Linked DNA regions of Homo sapiens: all the other regions are linked to region 4. Evidence: fine-mapped expression QTL. A gene starts in region 4. Each other region holds a variant in brackets. All regions are shown on one strand. Distances are between the middles of the regions.

Region 1 (5,106 bases), 58 kb before region 4:
TCAAAGTCGGCAACATAGCATCTTCAGATGGCTTTTGCTCTCTCCCCTCCGCTTCCATCCTCTGTCTTCTCTCACCTGAATCTCTCGCCTCCCTCTTAGAAGGATGCTCCTGATTACATTGAGTCCATCAAGACAATCCAGGGTAACCTCCTCATCTGAAAATATTTAATATAATTGCATCTACAAAGTCCCTTTTCCATGTAAAGTAACATATTTGCAGCTTCCAGGGTTTAGGACACGAGCATTTGGGGGTGGGGGGCGCTTTTCAGCCTACTTCGGCTATCAAGATAAAAACTCAATTTCCCAGCCTCACTTGCAGCTGCGTTTAGAACACATGACCAAGCCCTGGCAATGGATATGAGCCAAAGGGAAGTGTTGTCCTTCTAAGTCTTGCTCTTCGAGGAAAGTACCTGCTATTTGCTGAAACATGAATGAGTGAGCCCTTTGGACTTGGCAGATGAGGCCAGTACCTGGGTGTGGCCCAGCCACAAGGGCCTACGCCCCTGCAGATTTCTTGGAGCAAGGCCACCATAGCAGCTTGGACTTTTACATGATAAAAAGACAAACTTCTGTCTTGTTTAAGATACGTAGACAGAATTATATCCTGCTTAATACATTACTCAGGGAAGACCAGGGAACTGTAATTGACAGAATGTTTTGGGACTTCAACAGTGTTTATTAAAATCTCTTATAGGTATCCTTGTGCTCAAGATAGAGAAAGATGAGTTAAAGCCAAGAATAATTAGGTGGGTTTATAACTGCTTGAGTGACCATAAGGGTGCAGAGTAATGTGTTGGTTTTAATCTCTACAGAGAGGTTTTAATATTATGGCCCTGTTATAATCCATGCTCCGGACAGGTCAAATCACAGCTGAAATACTTAATTTTCTTCCAAGGGCCTCATCTGAAGAAGGCTACAGACATAGATGAGCATGCCAGGGATAGCAATGAAATGATGAGGGGACTGGAAAACATGTCATATAAAGACATGTCAATATAGATACGAGAAGGAATTCAGATATTTAGAAAGCATTTATTAGGTGTAAGTTACAATGCTATGTGAGAAAGGGTAGAATACATGAGGACGCATTTCCTTGCCCTCCTAAGAGATAAGGAGCATTTATATAAATGTATGTGGATATATACAAGGTAACTCACCAGACTTAGCTTGCAGTCGTTTATTAAGGATCTATCTGTGGACCAGGCATGGTGGAGCATGCCTGTTGTTCCAGCTACACGGGAGGATTGTTCCAGCCCAGGAGTTCGAGGCCAGCCTGGGCAACATAGCGAGATGCCCTATCTCTTAAAAAAAAAAAAAAAAAAGGAATCTGTTTGTGGGGGTTTTCTTGTTTTGTTTCTATTTTGTTTATGTTGTGTTTCTCTAGAAAAAAAGTCCCTTTGTCCATCCCTAGGGGATGATGACAATTCAGAAAGATTGGAAACATTGTTTTACTCTGGCAAGAGATCTGATTGAGTTTCTAGGAATTGTGGGGGCTAACAAGTATTAGGGTGTTGCCAAGGATTTACAAACTTTCTAGCCCACCATCAACCATCAAGCTCATTTAGAGATCCATCAAGCCCTTTTATGGCTAAAAAAACAAAGAAACAAAAAAAAGTTAATGAGAAGAATAAGGGCTTTTGAGAGTGCGGCCAAAAAAGGGAATGGGTAGGAAACCAAGAAGCAGATAGGAAAAAAGGACCCTGAGTCTGAGGGTGTCTATTCCTGAGAGCTGGACTCTGGTTGAACCATGGCTCTGTAAGTGCCAGGGGCAGCAGACCCCAAGAAGAAGCATGGTGTGGGGGTGATACATGAGTGTGCTGTGCCTGTCCAGAAACTGTGGGTTCCAGCACCTAGGGCTTTAGAGCCATTCACCAGGCACGAGTGGGCTGCTGGCCCTGTCTGTGCTTCAAGCACTCATCTCCAGACACTCTGGCCACAATTCCCCAGGACCTTCTTGCACACTTGTGGGCCACCATAACTGTGCTTGGTGCTGGCGTAGGATGTGCGCGTGTACTCTGAGCTAGGGATAAAAGGGAGTAAGTATCCCCCTTACCCAAATGATTATAGCTCAGGATAACTTGGGCTTCCCAGCTGCATGGGCATTTGCACTGGCCTTGAAAGCTGCCGCAATTTAGATAAGCATGAGATCTCCACACACACACACACAAAAAACTTGAACAAGTTTTCCTTTATGTTCAAGTTTCCCTTTATGGTTTCTTCTCCCCTTATGTCTGGTTTCTTTTTCTTTCCATGTCCAATTCTCAGGAAAGTTCAAAACAGTTTCCATTTCATGCAGTGGTTAAACAGCAACTTCCTTTGTCCTGCAGTCCTTCCTGTGTCCCCTCTGA[T/C]CCTGACCGCAAAACCACCTGCATTTCTCTCCCTGCCTGAGAAGTCCTTGGTCTTTTGCCTGCCTCCTGGCTATTGTTTCTCCCTTCCATGGTGGGGCAGGGCGGCAGCCTGCATGAAAGATGGGTACAAACAATGCTGTACACCAATCTGGTTTCAAATAAATACCACTTCGAGACCATCGAAAAGTAGTTCACAGGTAGGAAGACTTCTTGGTTCCCAGCTCATGGAGGTGTTCGCTTGTTTACTTGATAGAACTCTGGGGACAGATGACAAAATGGAACATGATCTCTGATTGGCAATGGCTACTCAGAGGCCCCTGTCAGAAATCTGGGCTAAGTTTGCAAGTTGTAGAGGAGCGAGAGTGCACCAAGAGTTAGAAAAATTATCACTCCTTCAATAAAAAAAAAAAAAAGCTCAAATGTTCTTGATGACATCTTTCCTGTCTACAAGTTTTATACTGAATCCTGCTGGTGTTCCACATACACAACTTAATATCTCCCATTGATTGGCTGCTTGCTGTGTTTCAAAGCTTTACATACAACACATGAGGTGGACAGAATCTCTGTTTCACAGAAGGGGAAACTGCAGCTCAGAGCCCTTCAGTAATCTGTGCAGTGTCATTTGGGTTAAGGTGGGAGGCTGGGATTTGAACCCAGATTTGTCTGGTTTCAAAGCGTGTGTTCTTTCCTCAATACTTCGCTAGTAACGTGGTAACAGCAGCAAAAAGAACGTGATCTAAAAAGGAGTTACTTCGAATTTTCCACATTATCCAATGCATTATTGTCCGTATAACCATTTTGCCCCCTTTCACCACTCCATACTGGAATGCTTGGGAGAGCTTTTACCCCAGGCAGCTGGTCCTGGCCCATTTACATGCACACCTAGACAGCTGCAGAGATCCCAAGGGCACACATGTAACTTCCTGTGTCTGGTACTTTGTGCAAAACCCTACCCCTCCCACACAAACTCTGGTAACCTTGGTTTGACAAAGGAGAGTCCATTTAGGGGACAATTGTCAGTGTTCTTCTGAAGAATTGCTCTCCTCCTTAGGGGCAGGAGGGCAAGTACAGATTGCTGTGAACACCTCAATCTTTTCCTGGCCACGTGGAGTATTTGTATACCCAGCACAGGGCAACAAAGGAGTGAAGAGTCCCAGGTCTCATGTAAACTCCTATGTTCTTTTTCTCAAAATGGAGAATTGGGCTTACCATTCAATCCACTGTCTTGTACGCATGACAGAAACCAAGTACATATTTGCGGAATGAGGGAATATTAACTAGGCACCCACAGCACGTGGTGTAAGAGAGCATTCAGGCTGTCTTACAACCTGAGCCAAAATCCAAAGCACCAAAATAGGATGGGTAGCTAAAAAATTGGATCATTGAGGGAGCTGGTTACTTTGTAGCATCATTACAATACTGATGTAATTCTAACCTTCCTTGCTGCAATGGTTCACTTGGGTGCCAAATAAAGAGTCTGTATTGGGTGATTATTAAGGATTCTTTCGCCTGAATTTTATAATAAGTGGAGAAATAAATAGCGTAAATAAAAAGTGTAAATAAGAAAATAGAAATAAAAAGTGTAAATAAAAAATAGGAATAAAAGGTGTAAATAAGTGTAGAAATAAATGCCAATTTTTTAGGAGAAGTAAATGACAAATTTTCTCACCAAGGAAAGTTTTTATTTCCCCCTGAACTAAAGCAGTTTAGGGAATTCGATCTGAACTTCTCATTTGAATTCCTGAATTTTTTTTAAGGCAAACTAGAATAAATATGATTTTAAAACCAAGAAGAAAAATTAAGTCATTTCACAAAATTAGAGCCTTATCATGAGTGACAGATTAATAATGAAACTTCCAAGAGTGCTGAATAAATTGCATTAACTTTGTCACTTCATAACAATAGGACACCAAAGGGGTGATTAAATTTATCTCCCTGACACAAGCGATAACTCCATACCAAAGGTAGTGTTAAATTGTATAGAAAATGGCTTCCTCCCCCTTCCTGTATTAAGATGTTAGGTAATGACACATAAAAGTGATTAATAGATTCCTAAACTGGGGCTTATTGAGCAGCTCAAACTAAACTGAATTTCTTTTTTAAATTAATGTTTATTTTTACAAAGTAATAAATGCACATAGCAAAAAGAGAAAAAAAAGTGAAATGGTAGCAAAAGGACAGACGGAAAATCAGCTGTCCCCTGCCTGCATGCCTTCTGTCCCCAGCCCACTCCCCAGACCTCTTACTTTCCATTTTTAAGCTATTTCTTCTGGTGTTTATTTCTGTACTTGTAAATAATTTGCTTATACAAATTATATCTTGGTGCATCAATTTTAGATATCTATTCGTCTTTCTATTTTGGAAGATGAGAATTTCATGCTCTTATCTCATTTCATCTTTCATTATTATTCATCTCAGCTTTTGCTAATTTGTACTCAGTACTTTACTATTATAGCTGTATAAATGACATTCATTACTATTCATTAATAGTAGTATACTAGTGGTACACTATCAGTGAATTAAGAGTAGGATACTTTTAATTAAGTAGTATAGCTAATAGTATTAGCAGTAGTAGTATTAAGTAGGATACTCTTAAGGAAACTAAAAAGAGTAGTACACTATTATTGTTTCCTTTGTTGTATAACTTTTTGTCTTTCCTAGAGTTGATCATTATTTTGGTTCTTTAAAATGTTCTTACTTCTTTAAATATATGCTCTAAGTTATAGGTAATAGATTAGGTCATAAAACCCTATTGACA
Region 2 (5,106 bases), 250 kb after region 4:
GCCCTGATGTTGTGTTTTCAATGTGGGGATGGAGCCTGTATTGATAAAGAGATCTTACTACCCCCATTCAAAGTACCAGAGAATTTGGATATCTCTCACAAGTTTTTATTTTTATTTTTCCAGCCTTTCGAAGGGCTGGAGAGCTGATCCAGTTACCACTCTTACATTTTTCCAGTTATCAGCTCAGAGAGGGCTCATGAAAGAGAGGGAGGGCAGGTAGGGAAAGTGAGAAAAATAACAAGCATTGCCTTCCACATCTAAAATGTTTTAGCTTTGCTTCCCTGCCGGGCTGAGGCTGGGAAGGACAAGCTCGATTAGCTCTAATAAAATCCTCTTCCTACAAGTCTTGATTCTCGGTAACTTTTCTTGGGTGGAGGGGACATGATAGATTCTCTTTAGATTTAAAGCCTCTTGCCCTGTGGGCATCCAATACCAAGACCCTTTCTTTCCCATGCACAGCCCCCTTATCTAGCCTGCTTGAGAAAAATACTTTATTCTTTTTTTTTTTTTGAGATGGAGCCTCGCTCTGTTATCCAGGCTGGAATGCAGTGGTGCGATCTCGGCTAACTGCAACCTCTGCCTCCTGGGTTCAAGGAGTTCTCCTGCCTCAGCCTCCCGAGTAGCTGGGATTACAGGTGCCCGCCACTGCGCATAGCTAATTTTTGTATTTTTAGTAGAGACGGGGTTTCACCGTGTTGACAAGGCTGGTCTTGAACTCCTGATCTCAGGTGATCCACCCGCCTCAGCCTCCTAAAGTGCTGGGATTCCAGGCGTGAGCCACCATGCCTGGCTGAAAAAAATACTTTATTCTTTTTTTTTTTTTTTTTTTTTTTTTTGAGACAGAGTCTCGCTCTGTCACCCAAAGCAGTGGAGAGCAGTGGCATGATCTTGGCTCTGCAAGCTCCGCCTCCCAGGTTCATGCCATTCTTCTGCCTCAGCCTCCCTAGTAGCTGGGACTACAGGCACCTGTTACCATGCCTGGATAATTTTTTTGTATTTTTAGTAGAGACGGTTTCACCGTGTTAGCCAGGATGGTCTCGATCTCCTGACCTTGTGATCTGCCCGCTTCAGCCTCCTAAAGTGCTGGGATTACAGGTGTGAGCCACTGCACCCAGCCAATACTTTACTCTTGACTCTCCATAGCTCTAGTCCCTCCTGCCCAAGCATTGGTGCAGATTATCTGAGGTGATTTGGTTTTGACCTCCCAATGCCTTGTTTCCCTGGGCATCCAGCCCACCTGGGCCTAAGCCCATAAGGTCTTCATAAAATATCCAGGTGGTCTGGCCTGCTGGATATTCCATAAATGGCCCTTAAATAAAGATGGTACCATTGGCTAAAATAATGTACCACGTCAGGGCAGGGAAATTGTGTAAGTGCCAAAAACTTCCCGGCCCACAGGGCGACTACAGCTCTCATCCCTTCTGGAACATACCACCAGCCTAGGGATGGGCTGTGACGAATATTTGGCCTCAGGCAACGCTGGAGCCCAGGGAAAGCTTTAGTTGCATGTGTGTTTTCTCACAGAATTATAAAGCCCAGCAGCTCTCGGTGCCAGAGGCTGCGGAGAGTTTCTGTGTTTTTCGACTATTCATTAGTGATTACATACCCCCCTGAACACCTGCAAGACCAATTCATAAAGCAAGCATTCATGGACTTTGGCAACAGCTTCATGGGAACTGCAGGGTACGGGGTACGGTCATTGTATCTCCAGATAAAAAACATTCTCTTACCAAGGAGGCCTCTGAAAATAGCAGGCTGCAATTTCAGTTCGACACCACGGGGTATTAAAAAGAAAAGTGTTACTTCACCTCGTCTCTTTATAAAGTCAGCACACTGTGAGGCTGTGGCATTCCTCGACAAATCCTCTTTCAGGACCCTTTCGGGAATGAGAAGAGGGGAGTGGTGGGCACTGCATTGATTGTGACGGGGCCAGCCCGGCCGTGGGTACGTGTGGCATGCTCTCCAGCGAGTGACACTGATTTACAGCAGGATAACAGGAAGTGTGGAGCTTGGGTGGCCTGCTGTGTAATTCTGGGTGACAGATTGCCCCTGCCACTTACAAAAACGGTGCTATAATTAATCCAAACAGGCCAACAATAATAAACAACGAAAAAATAATATCTTTATACAAAATATGGGATTGACCTTTAGTATGATTCTTTTTCACCTTAATTTTTTTTTCTTTTGCGTGCTCTCTGTTAAATAACAGAATGGCAGGGGCTGGAAGAGTATGGCTCGGAAAGACAATGCCGGAACATCGTGGCAGCTAAGTCTGAGCTGAATGCGCAGAATGAGAGGTTTACTCAGAAGTCCTGCGAGGACCATTGCACAGACTAGGGAAGCTGAGTCTTGTCTGGGCATCTGAAAACAAATGTATTTTGTCTGTAGAGGCAACATGAAGTTTAATTTGATTCTATCAGATGAGATTGGCCTGCCTAGAGAATTGAGCAGTTTTTCTTG[AGTGT/A]GTGTGTGTGTGTGTGTGTGTGTGTGTGTATGGGGGGGCTCCAACTCTCCCTCTCCCCTCTGCTCTGCCAGTATAGACAGCCTCCAGTGCTCAATTAGCCTCCTGAAGTGCTTCATTCTCTGATAACAGCTTAGACACTAGGAGAAACGGTGTTCACAGTGTGTTTCATCCTCACACGTATAAACACACATAGTCACAAACTCATTTAGGTTAGAAAGGACTTTTAATGGGACATCTGGCTCTCTTCCACTGCTTCTTGTCGAGGCAAAGTAGGTTCCCTTGTTAATATGTATACTCTAGCAATCACACCATGGCTAGGGTCTGTGGCTATATAGAATTATGTTTTGTCTTTTGTTATTGATTCAACTAGTGCAAGGGGGCAAAAGTCAAACCTAAGAAATCATAGTCAGAATTTCCATTTACATGGAAGGAGTGGGGAAGCTTAAATGCTGGGCAAAAAAGGGAAGATGTGGCCAAAAACTCAGTGAAGAGAGGATGATGGTGACAGTGATGACATGATGTATAAATGTAGTAAAAATCTCACTCTTTTTTAGTTGGGGGAGGCAGTAGAGTATAGTGGCTAAGATTATGGATTGTGGAGCTAGATTTCTCGGGTTCAGATCACAGCTTTGCTACTTACTAGCTGTGCGAACTTGGACCCATTTCTTATCTCTCCATTTTTCAGAGTTTAAGGAGCTTCCTCATCTGTAAAACAGCATAATAATAGTTGATTATTTCAGAGGGTTATTGCAAGTATTAAGCAAATTACCATGGGCAAAGCCCTTTAAACAGTGCCCAGCTATGTAAATGTTAACTGTCACCAGTTAAATTATCTAGATCATTGCCTATTGGCAAAGAATTCTGTACATCATCCATTGCATTCTTAGGAATGATCGCTCTACTTCGTGTTTAATAATCACAATTATTAAGCATTTACCGCACGTCAGATATTGTGCATACCCCAACTCTTCTAATACTTACAACAGCTCTCTACAAAGGAGAGTACTGAGATTAGAGAGAGTAATTAGTTCAAGATCACATAGCTAAGAAATAGTAGATTTATAATTCAATCCAGGTCAGCAGGGCTCGTGCCTGTAATCCCAGCACTTTGAGAGGTGGGCAGATCACCTGAGGTCAGGAGGTTGAGACCAGCCTGGCCAACATGGTGAAACCCCCTCTCTACTAAAAATACAAAAATTAGCTGGGTGTAGTGGCAGGTGCCTGTAATCCCAGCTACTTGGGAGGCTGAAGCAGGAGATTCACTTGAACCCAGGAGGCAGAGGTTGCAGTGGGCCAAGATCACACCACTGCACTCCAGCCTGGGTGAAGGAGTGTCTCAAAAAAAAAAAAAAAAAAAAAAAAAAGGAATTCAATCCAGGTCGACTCTGACCACCATATTTTAAATCAACAAGTTGTCCTATCTGTATTTGCCTCTAAAGAGTGAAAAGTAATGACAAATTTTGTATTCCATCTTTTTTTTATGATTGTCTTTAGTGTTCTATTCACTATTTTGAATGTGTGATGTAGGCAATGCTGAAAGTTAGGGAAGCCTTATGTTCATATAGCACTGCTCTAGACAGGTAGACTCAGGGCAGCATGCAGAGGGCATTCATTCTGGAGTCAATCTGCCTGTCACTGCCTCTCTTGATCCCATTACCGCTCAAAATCTCAGTGCCCCCTCAACAAAATGGGAATAATAGAAACTTACTTTGAAGGGCCTTTTCCGCCTTTAAATGAAGTAATATATGTTAAAGACCTGGGATAGGTTTGGCACTTAGTAAATGGTATGTTTTATAACTAGCAGCAATGGTTAACTCCTCAAGGATCTCAATGAGTTATCTTGGGGGAAGTAGAAGCTGATTAATAAAATAGGAAGATTTCACCAGCTGCAGTAATAGTCATAACGTCAGATCCATAAAAATGGTCTATCTACTTCTGTCTCCCAGTATTCATACATAAGCAGTCATTTGAAGCAAGACATTCTTCAAAGAATTCAACCTGTGAAAAAAGTCAGTAAAATCAGGTATCCACTATATCCAGTTTTTCCTAATGGTAGGATATTTTGCTTTGTTAAAGATAATTGCCTCAGCTTTCCAGGGCACTTCCAGTGTGCTTTTGTGGAGGTAGCCATGCTCTATATACTTGAAAAGAGCAACTAGGTTTTGTTAGATAATTCCTTATTTTCTTCATGTCACCTGTTAACTCCAGGCTTGATTCAGCCCCGTCCACAGTGTAGACTCTACGTAGCAGTAATGGAGAAGGTTGTTAGTTACCTAATAATGATGAAACGCTGGATAATTTACCCAGAATAAAAAGCTTGCTCTTTTCTGGATGATCTGGTTAATTATTTGGTTAAATTAGGTTAAAACCTTTTCTGTCGGGGTCTCTAATTATCTGGAAAACCAGGTAACTGTGTCCTTTTAAGAGCTTTTAGACTTGAATTATTCATCGACATAACCCAGCATCCCGGGAAGATTCCCAATTCTTCACCTGCCTTTTTGTGCATAGATTTGGATTGAGACTCTTGAGCTGTTCTATTTACAGCTGCTTGTAGATGCAAAATATTCAAACCATCTCCTTTTTTTTTTTTCCTTTACAAAAGAGAGAACCAACTTTGAGCTGTGAAGATGCTGGTGCTCAGC
Region 3 (5,106 bases), 160 kb after region 4:
AGCTGAAGATGATTTTGTGCATGTTCACTTACGGGGTTTTAAAGAAAGCACCATGCTGACTCTTGTTATTCTCCCAGTGGCACTGGCAAACTGTGTGTAGGTGGTTTTTTATCTTGTACTAGAGCTGATATTAGTAATAACTGATGGCTTGCCAAGGGCAGGACACTCTAGAGTGTTCACTGCTTTGCGTACATCAGCTCATCTAATTGAACAGTCAGAACAACTACAAGAAAGGATAAGGAACTGGAATGAGGTTATGTCACTTGTCCCAGGCCACACAATCAGTAAGTGACAGAGCTGGCCCTGGAACCTGATCTGCCTGACTCCAAAGCCTGTGCTCTTAACCACTGTGCTCCACGCTTCTCTCTGGGCTGAGACACATGCGGCCTACTGGACCGCCCTGCTTGCCGGGGGTGGCGGGCTCAGCATCTTGCACGAGTGCCTCATGAGGGCAGAGATCTGGTCTGTTTTTCTCTACTCTATCACGGGCATCTAGTAGAGACTAAGGAAATAATTGATGATTGAGTGAATCGAAGCAGTTAAATGAAGGGTTCTGGCATACTTTGGGAGATGGACTACAACTCATTTTCCAGAGTGGTTTTCCTGACCTTAGCCTTGACACTGGGGACTTGCATTTCTGGACTTCCAGGTATTAAAACCAGATGGACACTGTGGCATGCAATAGGACTGGAAGATTTTACTTTAACCTAAGCCTGTGAGGAATAGGCTCTGGGTCATGGAGAGTCACTATCTAGTCCCCTCTAAAATCTGGAGCCTTTGAGATCAGGGCCCAAGGCGGCCAAACGTAGTGCCACCAGATGGTCTTTGGAGCTGAATGCTTGCAGGTATTAGAGAAAGCCTGCTGAATTCACACTCTCCTAGAATTTTTATTGTTGTATCTCTTCTCTCTACAAAGTCTGTTTCAAAACACTGACCACACATACCAAGAAGGGATGTTGGAAGAGCAACCAAATACATGTACCTTGAATTCCGAAGGCACAAGTCACAACTGCATTTGAAAATCTCAGTGGATGGTTGGTTCTCTTTAACTTCTTTTCTGTGATTTTGATGAATCTCAGCTGCTTGCATATATTTGGGCTAGGATTTGTACAGAAGGCAGCTGTGTGCCACATCCAAAAAGTGTTTGTTGTAAAATATCTGTGACATAGTATCATAATAACGTTTTAAGATAAAGGACAAAGACAGCAGAGGCATCAGCCAGACGCGCCAGGTTAATTGGTGAATGTAGTGGATTAGTAATGACAATGAGAAAAGCCACCATTCCCTGAGCACTTCTTATACACTAAGCACCATGCTATTGTTGCTCGTGAATGGATCCCTTATTAATCCTTATGAATCCTATGAGATAAGTATCCTTATCCTCATTGTGTAGCTGAGGAAATGGGTTTGGAGTGGATTGTGACTTGTCCCTGGTTGCCATGATTATAATTCAAGTCAGCTTTACCATATGCAGCACTCGCACTGTTTTGCTCTGTGTTGGCCGCCTGAAGCTTCCAATATCCTTTCTTCTTCCGGTTATTGCATTTTCCTGAAGCCTAGTTTTATTACATGATTGATCATCTGGACAGACCTCTTCAGACTTTGACACATCTCTTTTGCCACCAAATCTTATCTGCTCCTTTGAGTCTCTCTTGCCCAGTCTATAGAAGGGGCATATGTGTGGAGAGTCTAATATGCAAGTTGTTGTTTAAATAATATTTTCTGATAATATTGATCCATTGAGCTCTTTTAGATCATGCTGGGCCAAGCACTGTCAGCCATCTGGTGGGAAGACCTTCCAGATGACAAGCATGGCGCTCATTGGTTGAACTGAGAGGGGTCTTTTCCTTGGCCACTTCTCCTTGCCCCCTCGACTCTTAGCTTGAGCTCCAGTCTTTTTGAGAGCACCAGTGGTTTCTAGTTGTTTAGTTGGCCATATGTGACGCTATATTGGAAAGGAAGAGAAAGAGAGTATCAGTTGAGTGCTAGGCATCACACATACATTATTTTAGTTAACCTTCCCAGCTCTGTGAAATGCAGATAACATCTCTAGGCTCCAGGAAGATCAGTAACTTGCCTAGGTTACACAGATGCCAGAACAGGAATTCGAACTCAAGTTTGCCAGCTTCCAGAGGCCACATTCTTTCCATTTTGCCACACGCACGTTTACCATTTACGATTTACTCCATTGTCAGCCTTCCGAAAGGACTTGAGATTGGTGGGACTTTGTTAGTGCCAATCAAGATGCCACTCGCAGTGAATGATCCCTGTTCCTTTAAGAACCAGGCTGAAGCTGGGCTGTTTTGGGACCTTTACAAAATGGAACTTTTCTGCCTGACCTAATTGCCAGGATAGCCGACTGAGCCAAGATAGTTTTGTGTTCACCAAGCAACTGTGGACCAACCTTAGCTTCAGGAAAACAGTGGTAAAAAAAGATCGATGAGGAACACTGCCAAAGAAATACCCTTTCTTCCCCGACTGAAAGATGGCTTTGTCCGTTGAGTTGAAAACTATTAAGTCCTGCCTTCCTCACTTTTCATCACGTGGCTTCTGTTTTTGAATTCCTTTTTGTTTTCAGTGATCCCACCACCAGATATCCACATTGACAGCTATGGTGAAAATTATCTAAGCTTCACCCTGACCATGGAGAGTGATATCAAGGTAATGTGGGAATTTCAAGCCAGCAGCTGGATGGGGCTTTATTTTGTATGGGAACTGAAAGGACATAGCACAGTAAGACTGGAAAAAAACAAAAAACAAAAAACAAAAAAAACGAACGGCTAGATCTAGTGAAGCTAAAATACCAGGACTAGGGTGGTTCCTTCCCCCATGAAGAACAACTTGAGTCTTCACATGTAATTATTCTGCCTCAGCCTGGTGCCTTTTTATCCTTAACCATATAATTAAATGGTTCACAGCTACAGTGCAAATAAAGAGTTGGTGTTAACAGAATATGTATGCCCTGTAATTTTCAGCTTTATTGGATTTCCTGGTGCTAAGCGCTAATGCTGAGGCGCTCACAGTGGAAGAACAACCTTCTTGTGG[G/A]AGAGTTGGATACCTTGGAAACATATTCACTTTCCATCCACCTAAGATCTTCCTCTTCCAGCACCGCCATCCCCTCTACTGGCCCTCTGCATAGCCGACTTCATCATTGTTACCTGTGCCCATGTGGTTCCTCAAGCTGAGATCCGCTTTCCATAGTGTTCCTTCTTATCTGTCCCTCCTCACAGCCTCTCCATTGATGAATTTGTGTTGGGACAAGTTGGGACAAGCAACCTTCAGAGTCTTTCTGCCATTTACTTAACTGCCATTTAGTGTCATGACCTTGGCTTCAGAATGGGTTGATATAAGAAATGGCCTCGGCCGGGCATGGTGGCTCACGCCTGTAATCCCAGCACTTTGGGAGGCTGAGATGGGTGGATCACCTGAGGTCGGGAGTTCGAGACCAGCCTGGCCAACATGGTGAAACCCCGTCTCTACTAAAAATACAAAAATTAGCCAGGTGTGGTGGTGCATGCCTGTAATCCCAGCTACTTGGAGGCTGGGGCAGGAGAATCGCTTGAACCTGGGACGCAGAGGCTACAGTGAGTCAAGATCATGCCACTGCAGTCCAGCCTGGGCAACAGAGTGAGACTCTGTCTCAAAAAAAAGAAAAAAAGAAAAGAAAGAAAAAAGAAGTGGGCTTATATGCTTCTTGTCTTGTAGTCTTTGATCTTGAAAATATTTTTGTTCGTTGTCCCATATTTAACGATCTTCAGATCAAATCTTTTTATGAGCTCAGGACTTGGAAAAGGTAGTCTTTCCTGATGGGTGGATGTATTTTCTGTAGTTAGACAATGAGATCTAACCAGCCTGTTTTGTATGGATTGTCTTCTTGGCCTTGACTGCAAGGATTTATCCTTAATTTCCATGGCCTAATTATCTTTCCAGTGTTTCCTCTTTCTACCTTTATTAATTGGTTCTCGTCCTTTTATTCTTCATTCACTTTTTTGTTTCATTGAATCTATAAATTAAATATGGTCTCGTTTGTTTTTAGAAGTAGGTGGAGTACAACTAAATATTAGCTAATGGTAGCACAAGTAGAACCTGTTTAAAATTTTTAAAAAACAACCTGTTCACTGTAAGAATGAGATACCCAAGGAAAGAACAGGAAAGAGGTGTATTTTTAATCCTGCCTTTTGTATTTAGTGTGCCCCATGACTAGCTGTTCATCTAACATGCTTCTTGGTTCTCGGCAGGTGAATGGCTATGTGGTGAACCTTTTCTGGGCATTTGACACCCACAAGCAAGAGAGGAGAACTTTGAACTTCCGAGGAAGCATATTGTCACACAAAGGTAACACTTTGGTGCTGGTCAGTGTGTGTGCAGGAAGGGGTAAGGCTGGACCAATGCTTTCCCGCTGTAGAGCTTGACTGGGGGTGCCAGGGAAGGGGAGGTATTCTCTGGAAGCTGTTCTGTGTTGACAGGTTCTTGTGCATTGAGGATCCTATAAGTGTGCTGCTGATTCTAGGCAGAGGGATTCACTCAGTGGCCCCTCGAGCCCTCCTCCAACCTCATGACCCTTAGTGGAAGTTGGGGGCCATAAGGAGGAAAATTGGACAGAGGCAAGACTAATTCTCTGCAGATGAGTTTTGATTTCCAAAAGAAAGAGTTCTTAGATATAGACAGTTACCTGTCTGTCCTTTCTAGTCTGGTTCACTCTCCCGTTGCTAATGAGAGACAGCAGAAGGCCTTATGCATAACTGGTGTTCAGTAAATACATGTTGACTGGAGAAATGGACAACAAACTAAGGGAGGAGTGGTCCAGTCCCTGTTACGTATGTACCAGCAGCAAGTCTCAGCTAAAATTCCTCTATCTAAGCACGTGCTAAAGGATGGATTTTAATTTATTTCTAAGTGGCGAAAGCTGCCTGTAACTGTTGAGAATGACTTGGGAGCTTCTTCCTGTCTCCTCCTTCTAGGCTGTGAAGCACTTTCAGTCATGTTTTTATTGAGTCCTTGTCATAGCCTTATAAAGTAGAGACTACAAATGTTCTATTGTTACTTTTTTTTTTTAACTGAAAGTCTACAAGGTGCCCGAGGAGGCTGTTATTTTGACTTTTGCAC
Region 4 (5,106 bases):
CTGGAGGCCTTCACACAAATTTGCACAGCTATTTTATATACTTACCTCATCTGATACTCTCAGCAGTCCTGTGAGATTGGTAGGGATTAAGATCTCTATTTTACAGATGAGAAAACTGAAGCTCTGAGGAGGTTTGGCCAAGTCCCCACAGCTAGAAAGTCAACCTTCTGACTCAGAATTCAGCGTGTCTTCCACTGCGTTCTGTAGTTGTGCAGCAGGCACAGTCTTGGGGGGTTGCTGATTATCTACCTGAGAATGGTTTGGAATGTAGATAATGATTAGATAGGAGGGCTTGCAAGGAGTTAATTAACCATGTTTGAATATTCTTACCAATTCTCTAGCATTCAAGTTGCAAATCAACATCAAAATGAGCAAGTAGCTGGCCCTGCCCTACTAGTCCTTCTGTGCAAGGGGCCATCTGAACCTTAAGCCAGCAGTTTGTGTGGGCAAACAGATGCCCATCTTCAAATCCACACTTAGGAGACTCCTGTCTCTGTTTTCTGCTGGGACTCTGACACTTGCTCTTGCAGAGAAGGTTCTCATTAAATATATGTTGGAAAAACCCCAATAATTGAATCATCTACAGGATGTTCTCACTTTAGCCATATTCCCTTCATTTTCCTTTGAGGGCTAAATGGGAGTAGAGATATCTTTGCTGCTGGTCCTGAGAGACCATGGGGTTGTCCATTCCTGGTAAGGTGATGCTGACCAGACAGAGCTGATCTAGATGAGGGGTGGGAGGTGACAGTGGTTCAGTGGCTTTCTTGGAGGATGCATGATTGTTTGAATTATTATTTTTAATTGACATATATAAGTATATAATAAATATATATGTTATATATATGAGTTAGAGCTGAATTGCACAATATGAGCAAGGCGTTCCTCTCAGCTTCAAAACCAGCTCTGGGTTGTAAACAAGCTACCACTTCCTCAATCCCTCTGAAATAACATCAAAGTTGGGGTGCAGGATGAAGGCACCCCAATAATACCACACTGGGGAAAGTGTGGTATTTTGATACCTGTATACAATGTATAATGAACAAAGCAGGGTGGTTAACATAGAGAATGCATGATTTGCTTGGTGGGGAGAACTGGATGGTTCTGTAATTATGTTGAGATGGACAGAAAGACATCATCTGACTTGGGGAGAAAATCGGGTGTGGGAGGAGGTGGGAGAGTGCAGAACCTGAGGCAGAGGTCCCCAGCAAGTCTGGCATGGGGTAGGGTAGGGTGGTTGAATACTGGCTTCAGGGAGATGAGGCAAGCTGGCCTGACTCTGGCAGGTTGTCAGTGGTAGTCCTAGGTAGAGGAGGGGGCTTTGCTAAGCTACCTGAAAAGTACTAGAGTGGGCCGGGGTAGGAATCGGGCTACCGTGGCTTGTCGGAGATGAGGAATGTTTTTAGAAAATTGAACTGACCATCCCTTCCTTCCCCTGAACAGCAGCTTGTATGCAACTATAAAGGTAGTCTCCCTTTCAGCCCTGCTTGCTGTGTCTTTATTCTTATCAAAAACCAGGATCTGAGTTCAGAGGGCAGTGAAACATAAAATGAAATAGGAAAGGTTGCAGTAGTACATAGACTTTGGCTGCTCCCACTAACCTGCAAAAAAAATATTTTCCTTGGGCGTACCTTAGCAGTTCCATGGCAGAAGTTTTATCTCCTGTGGTTCAGAGAGTTTGGCTCGTCAAGCTGAATGTAGGGTTAAAGTGTGTCCTCCCTCCTCTGTGGGTGTTTGCCTAGCTCCTGGCTGTGGGTTGAAGGGACTGGTAAATATGTCTATTTTACTGCTGAGGCAGGGTGGCTCAGTGCTTGGTCACCTTGGAGGGATCATAAGCAAGCCGCCGCTGGGGCCCTGTGCCACGCACAGGTATTCATGCGTGCGTGCAAGCACACCCTGTATAGCTGTGTAATAATTGTCCAGGTGTGGTGCATTCTTTGTCAGATGTACCCTTGTTTTTACTGCCTCTGTGCAGGATGTTTATTTGCTGTGCTTCAGGCTGGGGCACGTAGCTTGATCAAGGGTAGTTTTTGCTGTGGCCCCTGCAAATACGTTGTGGTGCCCAGAGTAGATGAAAAACTGTGAGTTTCCCAATAGAGCGGGTTCATCTGGACTCTTGTTGGTTGCGTTCTAGGAGCTAATTCTGTGGCTCTGGACTCTTCCCTGGAGGTGGGGATGAGGCCGGGGCCGGGGGGAGGTGGTCTTGTGGCGCTACTGCGGGCTGTGCACTCAGGAAAGTGGCCACGGTTTAGGACGACCTCGACACGACCCTGTATAGGACGCAACTAACTCCAGAGAAAACGAGCGAGCCCCATGCAACTCTTCATTCCTGCAGGGAGAACAAGGAGGTGTGCCCGCCAGGGAAGGGACGCACCCCCACCGGCGCTCGCTGCCTTAACTTCCCCATCCCCGCGCCAGGGAGGGGCCGGAGTCGCCGCCGAGGCCGCCGAGCGCAGAAAGTGCGCGAAAGGGACGCGCTGCGAGCCTCACACGTGACGGCGCCGCGCCGAACCGAGCGGGACCTGGCGGCAGCGGCGGCGGGCGCAGCGGGGCGGCCCGGAGCGGCGCGGGCGGCCTGGAGCCCCGGGAGCGGCGCGCGCGGTCCCGGCCCAGCGGCTCTCCTGGCCTCGCGCTGCACATTCTCTCCTGGCGGCGGCGCCACCTGCAGTAGCGTTCGCCCGAACATGGCGACACGGAGCAGCAGGAGGGAGTCGCGACTCCCGTTCCTATTCACCCTGGTCGCACTGCTGCCGCCCGGAGCTCTCTGCGAAGTCTGGACGCAGAGGCTGCACGGCGGCAGCGCGCCCTTGCCCCAGGACCGGGGCTTCCTCGTGGTGCAGGGCGACCCGCGCGAGCTGCGGCTGTGGGCGCGCGGGGATGCCAGGGGGGCGAGCCGCGCGGACGAGAAGCCGCTCCGGAGGAAACGGAGCGCTGCCCTGCAGCCCGAGCCCATCAAGGTGTACGGACAGGTGAGCAGTTTTGCAACCCGCCTCCCTCCAGTTTTTTCCTCTCCCTGCACTTCCTCACCCCCGCATCCATCCGTTGCAGTCGCCTCCTAGGTGCAGGCACCACTGGGGACTTCCCGGCTTGCATTTGTTTTTTTCCTTCACGAGTACAACCGTCAGCACTTGAATCGCATTGATCTTTCCTTCTTCCTGTCGATTTAGTAAACGTATTCCAGGTAACTCGCCGGGTGCAGTGCGTATTACCCCAGGGTGTGTGCAGAGAGATGTAGTTTCCGGCAGGTATAGGAGGGGTGCAGCTTCATTTTACATCTGGATAAAAAACGGGCTTTCTTTAGTGTATCATCAGTTGGCAGTGGAGGCGAGCACCCTGCAGTTGCGGTACACTTACACAGAACAGCACGAGGTGGGGGTTTCCACACTTAGCATTATTAGCACAATAAAAGTGGGCAAACCTGAAAGCTTGTCGACTATCTCTGTACAGTCAGACAAGAGGTGTGTGTATGTGTGTGCGTGTGTAAAGGCTGAATTTTTAATTTTTAATTTTTGGCGAGCGTGTGAGATGCTCTCCATTCCTTCTTCCCCACCCTTCAAGATGCTGACTCTCCCACCCCCGTCAAGATAACTTTATTTTGGAGAGGAATACCCCTCATGGCACTTGGAGATTTGAAAGGACTGCAGGAAATTTGGTGGGCATTATTATTCTATAAGTGATTTATTTCTACCCAGGCAATAGGTTTATTAGATCATAAGTAACGTGAATTTCACTTTTATGGTCAGACTTACTGCGAGGAATTGCAGATGGAGTTTGTAGGTTAGGATCAGCACTGGCAAAATTAATTTGACCGTGTTATTGCCTCATGAGACTCCCAGTCCTGCAGTTAAGATTGACATCAGCAAAAGTATAAGGTCGGTGGGGGAGAAAAAGTAGGACCAGAGGAGGGGGTAAATACACTTGTTTTCTAGAGTCAAATTGTTCCTTTTGAAGTAGAAATTATTAATAAAAGATTACCCTGAGTTCTGCCTTTTCTCACTAATTTCACTTTAGCCATTTCTTCAGGAAATACAGAGTTAAATGTTCAACCCTTGGATCCAGGACGAACCTTGTAAACATATCACCCTATTGTGTCATTTTGTTGGTGAAGAAACTGAAGCGTGGAATGGTGAAGTGACTAGTCCAAGGTCATACCGGGAAGGTGGCCTGCTCTCTAGTTTTTGTCTGCATTGTCTCAGTGACCTTTGCTTGACTGCAGTCACCCTGTCTTTATGCAATGCTGCTGAAATACCTCCTTTCTAAAATAAAATAGATCTGGTATAAAGGGGGAAAGGATGGTGGTGACTGGGTGGGAGCGTTGGATTTCCCTCCACTATTGGTCCCTGGGCAAGAATGTGTGCCCCAGGGCATGTAACTAATGGTGGCCACAGGCTGCAGGAACCTGCATGCTCAGTTCCTCTTGGGCCCAGATCCTTGTCCCCCTGTCCCCACCCCATATGACAAATATGTGTATGAACAAAAAGAAGTCATCAAGGTCCTTGCTCTTAACAGCGACACCAGCATGGGGCTGATGGAGGGTGGGAGAAGGAGGAGGAGTGGCCCACTTCTTCATTGGGCCTCCGCAGTCAGCCCAGCTCTGCTGTGCTCTTGAATCAGCATTCTGGGAACTGGGAGTTGGGGGCTGGTGGGAGACAATCCCTCCCAGTGCTCAGGTCCCCTGAAGCTATAGTTTAGGTTGAGGAAAAAGTTTTCTGGTTTCAAAAATATGTGTACATGTGCCATTTCTTTCTTGGGTTTGGTTTATGAAAAGCTCCAGGGGATGTGGGGCAGGTTGGACATGAACTCTGTTCTCACTGGGAGTGACTCCCAAACCCTGGGCTTTTGAGTTTCTGGGCCAGCCAGATTGAGTTTGGTTCAGCTGAAGGATGGAGAACTAGCAGTCAAACTCATAATGAGGAATTCCTAACCGGAGGGTGAGGGTACAAGGGTGAGATTTTTCTTCTCTGTGGCTGCCTTCCTATGCCATTGTTGCCTCTTGCTCTGAGGTTAATAAGAAGTGGAATTAATTTGAATCTGTAAGGATTTGAGTCAGATAAAAGGAAGAACTTCCCTGTACTGGGCTTTCTGCCACAAGTTCTATCTGGTGCAGAC
Region 5 (5,106 bases), 180 kb after region 4:
TGGAACCCCTTCTCCTTGAAAGTGTGTACAGATATTCCATTTTGTTTGGATATAGTTTATAGGAAAGTGTGTGGATGTATTATGGCGGAAGGTTTCTTTATGTTATTTTGTTAATTTATTGGGACTCTGTGTAAGGCCAGGCTTTAGTGGTCATTAGACACCACATGTGTTATGAGCCCCTTACCCATAGGGTTGGGGGTGGGAAGAGAAGCATATTTTTTTGCCATTCCGGAAGCAATCCATTTTTATTCACTTGTGTGTCATGTAATGGTCTTTGGCAGGAGAGAGCACTGAGTCATTGCTGGAGTTCAGTTCAACAGAGCTGCAGCTTGGGAAGCCCTGTAAGCCCACAGCTTCCTCTCTTATATTAATTGATGGAATTTTACTGTATGTGCCTCTGTACAAGATGTAGCTTTGAGAGCTACAAAATGATAACACTGCTTTATTACACACTGGTTTCATTGTCATTGCAAAAACTTACCCTGGTTGTGGGGGAGAGTTCTAGATCTGTGCCATGATCCATACACTGGCTAATAGAGTACATAATTTTTCCATTTTCCATTTTTTGTTTTTACTTACTACTGAAGGATCTCAGATGTAAAATTATGTATTTGGTTTGAGATGGCCACTTATTGTCCTTAAAAATCCATACTGATATATGCAGTCATTTTGAATTGGACAGTGCCTTCTCTTTTTTTTTCTCCTCTTCTTCCATCTCCCTCACCCATGCCCCCACCCAATCTAAAGAGACAGTGCTGTACATTCTCATAGAGATAGAGAAGATCTAAAAAGTTGAGACTACTCAATCCAGTTAACAACAGCAGGAGCACTAGAGTTTGTTCATTTATTCTCTCTGTAAAACAAGCTGTGCTTTTTTTCTTCTGCCTTTAAAATGCCACCCGTGTATTCAAACCATGGCCACTTGATACTTATGTAGAATCCATCGTGGGCTGATGCAAGCCCTTTATTTAGGCTTAGTGTTGTGGGCACCAATGTCGAGCATCGTTGTGACTTGTGCTGTATGATTCTCACTGAAGAATTTCCTTTCAGCCAAGAAGCAGTGAGGTCTGGGAATATTCCAAAGTCATGTCTCTGAATATGTGTCCTTGACGTGCAAGCTTTGTAAAACCCCATCCCCGCTTAGGTGCGAGGCATCACCTTCTCACAAGTGTTTAGTTTCTTTTAACCACAAGTATCATTCTTGGGTGATAATATAGTTTCATTCTACTTAGGGATTGTTTAGAAAACAAAGAAAGAGCCAATTAAATTTTTTAGTTTTTGAAATTTTTATTTATATGTATACTTAGATGAGTATTTTAAGCTGTCGACCTTTAGTTTGCCATACGGGTAGGACTGTATTTCATGTTAACAACTGGTGGTAATGATAAGCCTTCTTCTAGCGTATTTTCTCTTCTTTCCTGTCACTTTCCTAAGTTTTTTTTTTTAAAGACTGGAATTTTTTTTGGCTTTATCTTGTCTTACCGTAGAGATTTGTTCAAAACTCTAAGCCCTACCACCTCCCCTTTAATAAGCTCTTTAAATAGTTGAATCATTAACAACCTGGTGGGAGGCAAGTCATTTAATTGAACCACTAGGAAGTGTATTTTCTTTTCTTTTTCTGCCAACTTTTTGGTGGCATTTGTAAAAGCTGATATAAAAGGCTCTGAGATGTTATTTTCAGTTATTCCATAGGCAAGCCTTTTTACAGAGCATATGTCTCCAGTTGGCAGCTTGAGATATTTCCGAGCATCCGGTTCTAGCTACCAGTGCCTCCCAATGCTTAGTGCACAGTACTGTAGACTGGCCATCACCCCTCTCCTTGGAAAATGCCACTGTGCTGTTTGAAAAAAAGCAGCCTTTTAGGGCTAGAGTATTTTATATAAACAGAAGAGCTAAGTTCCTGAAGACTAAGCTAGATAGCTGCAGCTATATGTAAATTGTATATTTTTATGAACTTTTGAAGCACACACTCCTGTTTCCCTCTGTGTAGCTTTGTGGGGATTTCATGTATATATGCTGTCTGAAAGAATCCAGAGGTTGGAGTGCCAATAGAAAATGAAAACAAATGCCTTGTACTACAGGCAGCCTCTGAAGGTGACCACATAACTGTCTTCACTGTGACCAATCGGAGTCCCTGCTTGCTTGTGAAGAAGGGGCTTTTGTACCTTGTTGGAGATGCCACCTCAGAAGTTCACACTGTGCAGGAAAAAGGTTTTATTCTCTCCTGGCATACATTAGAATGTCAGATGCTTGCATCCATGTGGACCACGATGGGCCTCTAAAAATTGGTGGGCAGGGGGTTTGCTTATGAGTTTTCTCTGGAAACCGATTTTACTCCTGGATGTATTGAATGCCCCTTGAGCTTTATGAGATACGAGTCCACATGGATAAAATGTTAGAGAGTGGAGTTCTACAGAG[G/A]ATTCCAGGAAGAGGCCATGTCTGTGCAGTCCTAGTTCCAGACAGGTGAGAAGCTCCAGGAACTACTGGCTACCTTGACAAGCTGGGTAAATAGTTATCATTCTGGGTAACTGGTTGAAACTCTGACTTTTGGACAAGTAATTCCTGGGGTTCTGTCTTTGGTAGCATCACCAGGGATATTTGGGTGGGACAGACAGAAGACACACAGCTGCCTGTTCTCTCCTGCCCATCATGTTTGGCCCACTAGATGAAGCTGTACTCAGCAATTTAGGGAATGTAACCCTTCTCAGAACTGGCCATTTTCAGGGGAAGCTTGGGAGAGCAATAGTATGGTGAGCCCCTTAGAGATGAGCGCCTACTCCTTCTTGGCGAATGCTGCCTTCAGATGCTTACCAAGTGGTCACTGCATCTAGTAAGATTATATTTCCAGTACACTTCCTTAGGGCAGAAACACCATCCTATCAGGTTTGGTCAGTCCCTTCTTCATGAAGGGAGTCATGGGGAATTCCTGAAAATTTTCTTCCTTCTGCAGACAGTTGGATGAGTCCCTTAGAGAAGGCATCCAGAGACATAACTAAACTGAATATCATCCCATATTGATTTTAGGAATTGACTCTAAAACTCTGTGCAGAATCTTGTGTTGGGATTGTATCTTGACATTCCTGTTGTGTTATTTTTCTTAACTGGAGTGTGTGCTGCCTTTCAGGTACAATTTTTGTGTAATAAAAGCCAGTGCATTAAGTTTATATAGACTACTTTCTATGCAAGACTGAGATATGGAATAGATAGGAAGAGATATGTACTGCTGGGTACATGGACAGTAAGTGTGTTTTCAGATGGAGTACCAGCACCGAAAATGGGTTGAGGGAGGATGGGTTGTATGTATGTTTCTGCCCACTAATTTTGAGCAGCCATATTATGAATTAAATCGTCACAGCCAAGTAATAACCCAAGAATGGTATGAGTTTCATGTGTAATAGCTCAAATGGAATAAGCATGAATGCTGGAGTGGACCATTATCCTCAAATATTCTATGTCACTTCTCATTTAAAGACTCTTGTTATGAACTATTAGAAACTTTAGGCAAAATCAAAAGTATTTGCGGCAAAATAAAGGCCTATTCTACTCTTATTTAAAGTGAAACACTGTATACTTGTTTCTCTCCAAAGCGAAATTAAGTATTTATAATTTCAATTGCCTCGATAAGTTTCCAAGTCACTGAAATCTGCTGAAGGTTTTACTGTATTGTTGCACAACTTTAAGATAATTTTTGTCTCAATGTCAACTTTTTTCACTGAATAAAAATTTAACTGGGTCAAGAAAACACCTCTTTGAAAATCCACTGTCTCTGTGTGTCTCGAGCTGTTCTTTAGAGCGCAATAAAGATGGCTGACGCAGTCTCCAAACCCCATTTGATTGGTCTGTTTTAAACGGATGTTTATTTCATAGATGAGAGAACACCAAGGCCTGGAATAATTTTGTTATTAACAAGCTGGTCTCAGATGGTGGATCCTTGAAGAACACGATGTCTTTGTGTTGGTTGAGGAGGGGGAAGATGTGCTGGCTGTTTTGAAGTAAACAGAATTATTCCGTAGGGACAATGACTAAAGTGGCTCCCTTAAATTTGTAACTACATTTGCTAAGAGACAGTTTGCTAAGAAGGCAATTTTCAAATCTAAGAGACGGAAGCACAGCAGTATAGATGAGCTGTGTGTCTAAGAGCACTTCTATGGGTTTCCATAGACAGTCTTGTGAGGAGTGCTGCGTGTACCTATTATGGGCAGCTGAATGGCCATGGGCCTGTAAGTCAGGATTGGAGGCTGTGGAACTGGGTGGGGGAGGGAGGCAGGTTTTTAAGAATTTAACAGGTCTTCTGGTATGCTGCTTTTGTTTAGACACTGAGCCAGAGCCAAACCCTGAAGTATTATCATCTGGTTTTGTGAATGAAGAAAAGGAGGCATAGAAAAGTGAAGTAATTTAGGAGAAACCAGAGCATAAAAGGCAAAACCAGCCTCCCATCCCAGGTGTTTCTGATCCCAGATCCTCTTCTGAATCACGACGCCACAGCGCCTCATGTCACCATTCAGTATCACAAAGAACACATTAGTCCAACACATTGCACCAAGCGAAATCCCAAGGGGAGACCTACCACCTGGGTGAGCCTCCTTGGTCATGGCCTCATCCTTAGGTTTTCAGGCTTAGATAATTTTTGTCAACACATGATAGTGAATTCATCTCTCATGGCCAAACACACCTTAACCAAACTCAGGATGTTGATATGCAACGTCATAATGTCCATTTGTTAATTCACCCTGGGAAAGTGTCCTGTCCCTTACAATGTCTGCATGACCAGTGCATTCTCTCCCTGTAGGGAGATCTACCCCAGGAGCCAGTCACCACCAGAAGGTTGCTTGGAGAGCAGGGGCAAAGAGTTTTAAAAGTAGGAGGGATCTGGGTTAGCATAGTGGTTGCCCAATAAATACTGAATGAATGAACAAAGACTTGACACTCCACAACAGGAATAATCTACTCCATATAAACTTAGTATTTGAAGCCGTCAGATTGCAACACCCTGGATCCATTTCTAGTTAAAAAGATCTTGCCAATAGGATCTAATACTTTAAGTCCATGCACTGTGGTTCCCCTGGACAGGGCTTGGGCACTCCCACATCGGTCACTCTGACTCAT

Evidence for each region.
Region 1: its variant is fine-mapped to the expression of SORL1 in whole blood (TOPMed, PIP above 0.99).
Region 2: its variant is fine-mapped to the expression of SORL1 in whole blood (INTERVAL, PIP 0.99).
Region 3: its variant is fine-mapped to the expression of SORL1 in whole blood (TOPMed, PIP above 0.99).
Region 5: its variant is fine-mapped to the expression of SORL1 in whole blood (TOPMed, PIP 0.98).

What each region holds. Positions count from the first base shown.
Region 1 is chr11:121,391,712-121,396,817 of GRCh38, forward strand. No RefSeq gene overlaps it. Among named protein-coding and RNA genes, the nearest start is that of SORL1, 58 kb to the right of the region's middle. The variant T/C (reference allele first, on the strand shown) is at 2,349.
Region 2 is chr11:121,694,834-121,699,939 of GRCh38, forward strand. No RefSeq gene overlaps it. Among named protein-coding and RNA genes, the nearest start is that of SORL1-AS1, 240 kb to the left of the region's middle. The variant AGTGT/A (reference allele first, on the strand shown) is at 2,461.
Region 3 is chr11:121,608,498-121,613,603 of GRCh38, forward strand. SORL1 (sortilin related receptor 1) reads left to right here. Exons shown (of 48, transcript NM_003105.6): 39 at 2,579-2,661; 40 at 4,239-4,335. Among named protein-coding and RNA genes, the nearest start is that of SORL1-AS1, 160 kb to the left of the region's middle. The variant G/A (reference allele first, on the strand shown) is at 3,046.
Region 4 is chr11:121,449,651-121,454,756 of GRCh38, forward strand. SORL1 (sortilin related receptor 1) reads left to right here and starts at 2,664. Exons shown (of 48, transcript NM_003105.6): 1 at 2,664-2,966. The coding sequence starts at 2,682. It overlaps SORL1-AS1 (SORL1 antisense RNA 1), which reads right to left and starts at 3,317. Exons shown (of 3, transcript NR_183636.1): 1 at 3,025-3,317; 2 at 46-249. RefSeq lists enhancers at 1,621-1,680, 3,071-3,260, 3,271-3,320, 3,361-3,430, 3,451-3,500 and silencers at 2,551-2,600, 2,731-2,780, 4,625-4,674.
Region 5 is chr11:121,629,935-121,635,040 of GRCh38, forward strand. SORL1 (sortilin related receptor 1) reads left to right here. Exons shown (of 48, transcript NM_003105.6): 48 at 1-3,829. Among named protein-coding and RNA genes, the nearest start is that of SORL1-AS1, 180 kb to the left of the region's middle. The variant G/A (reference allele first, on the strand shown) is at 2,419.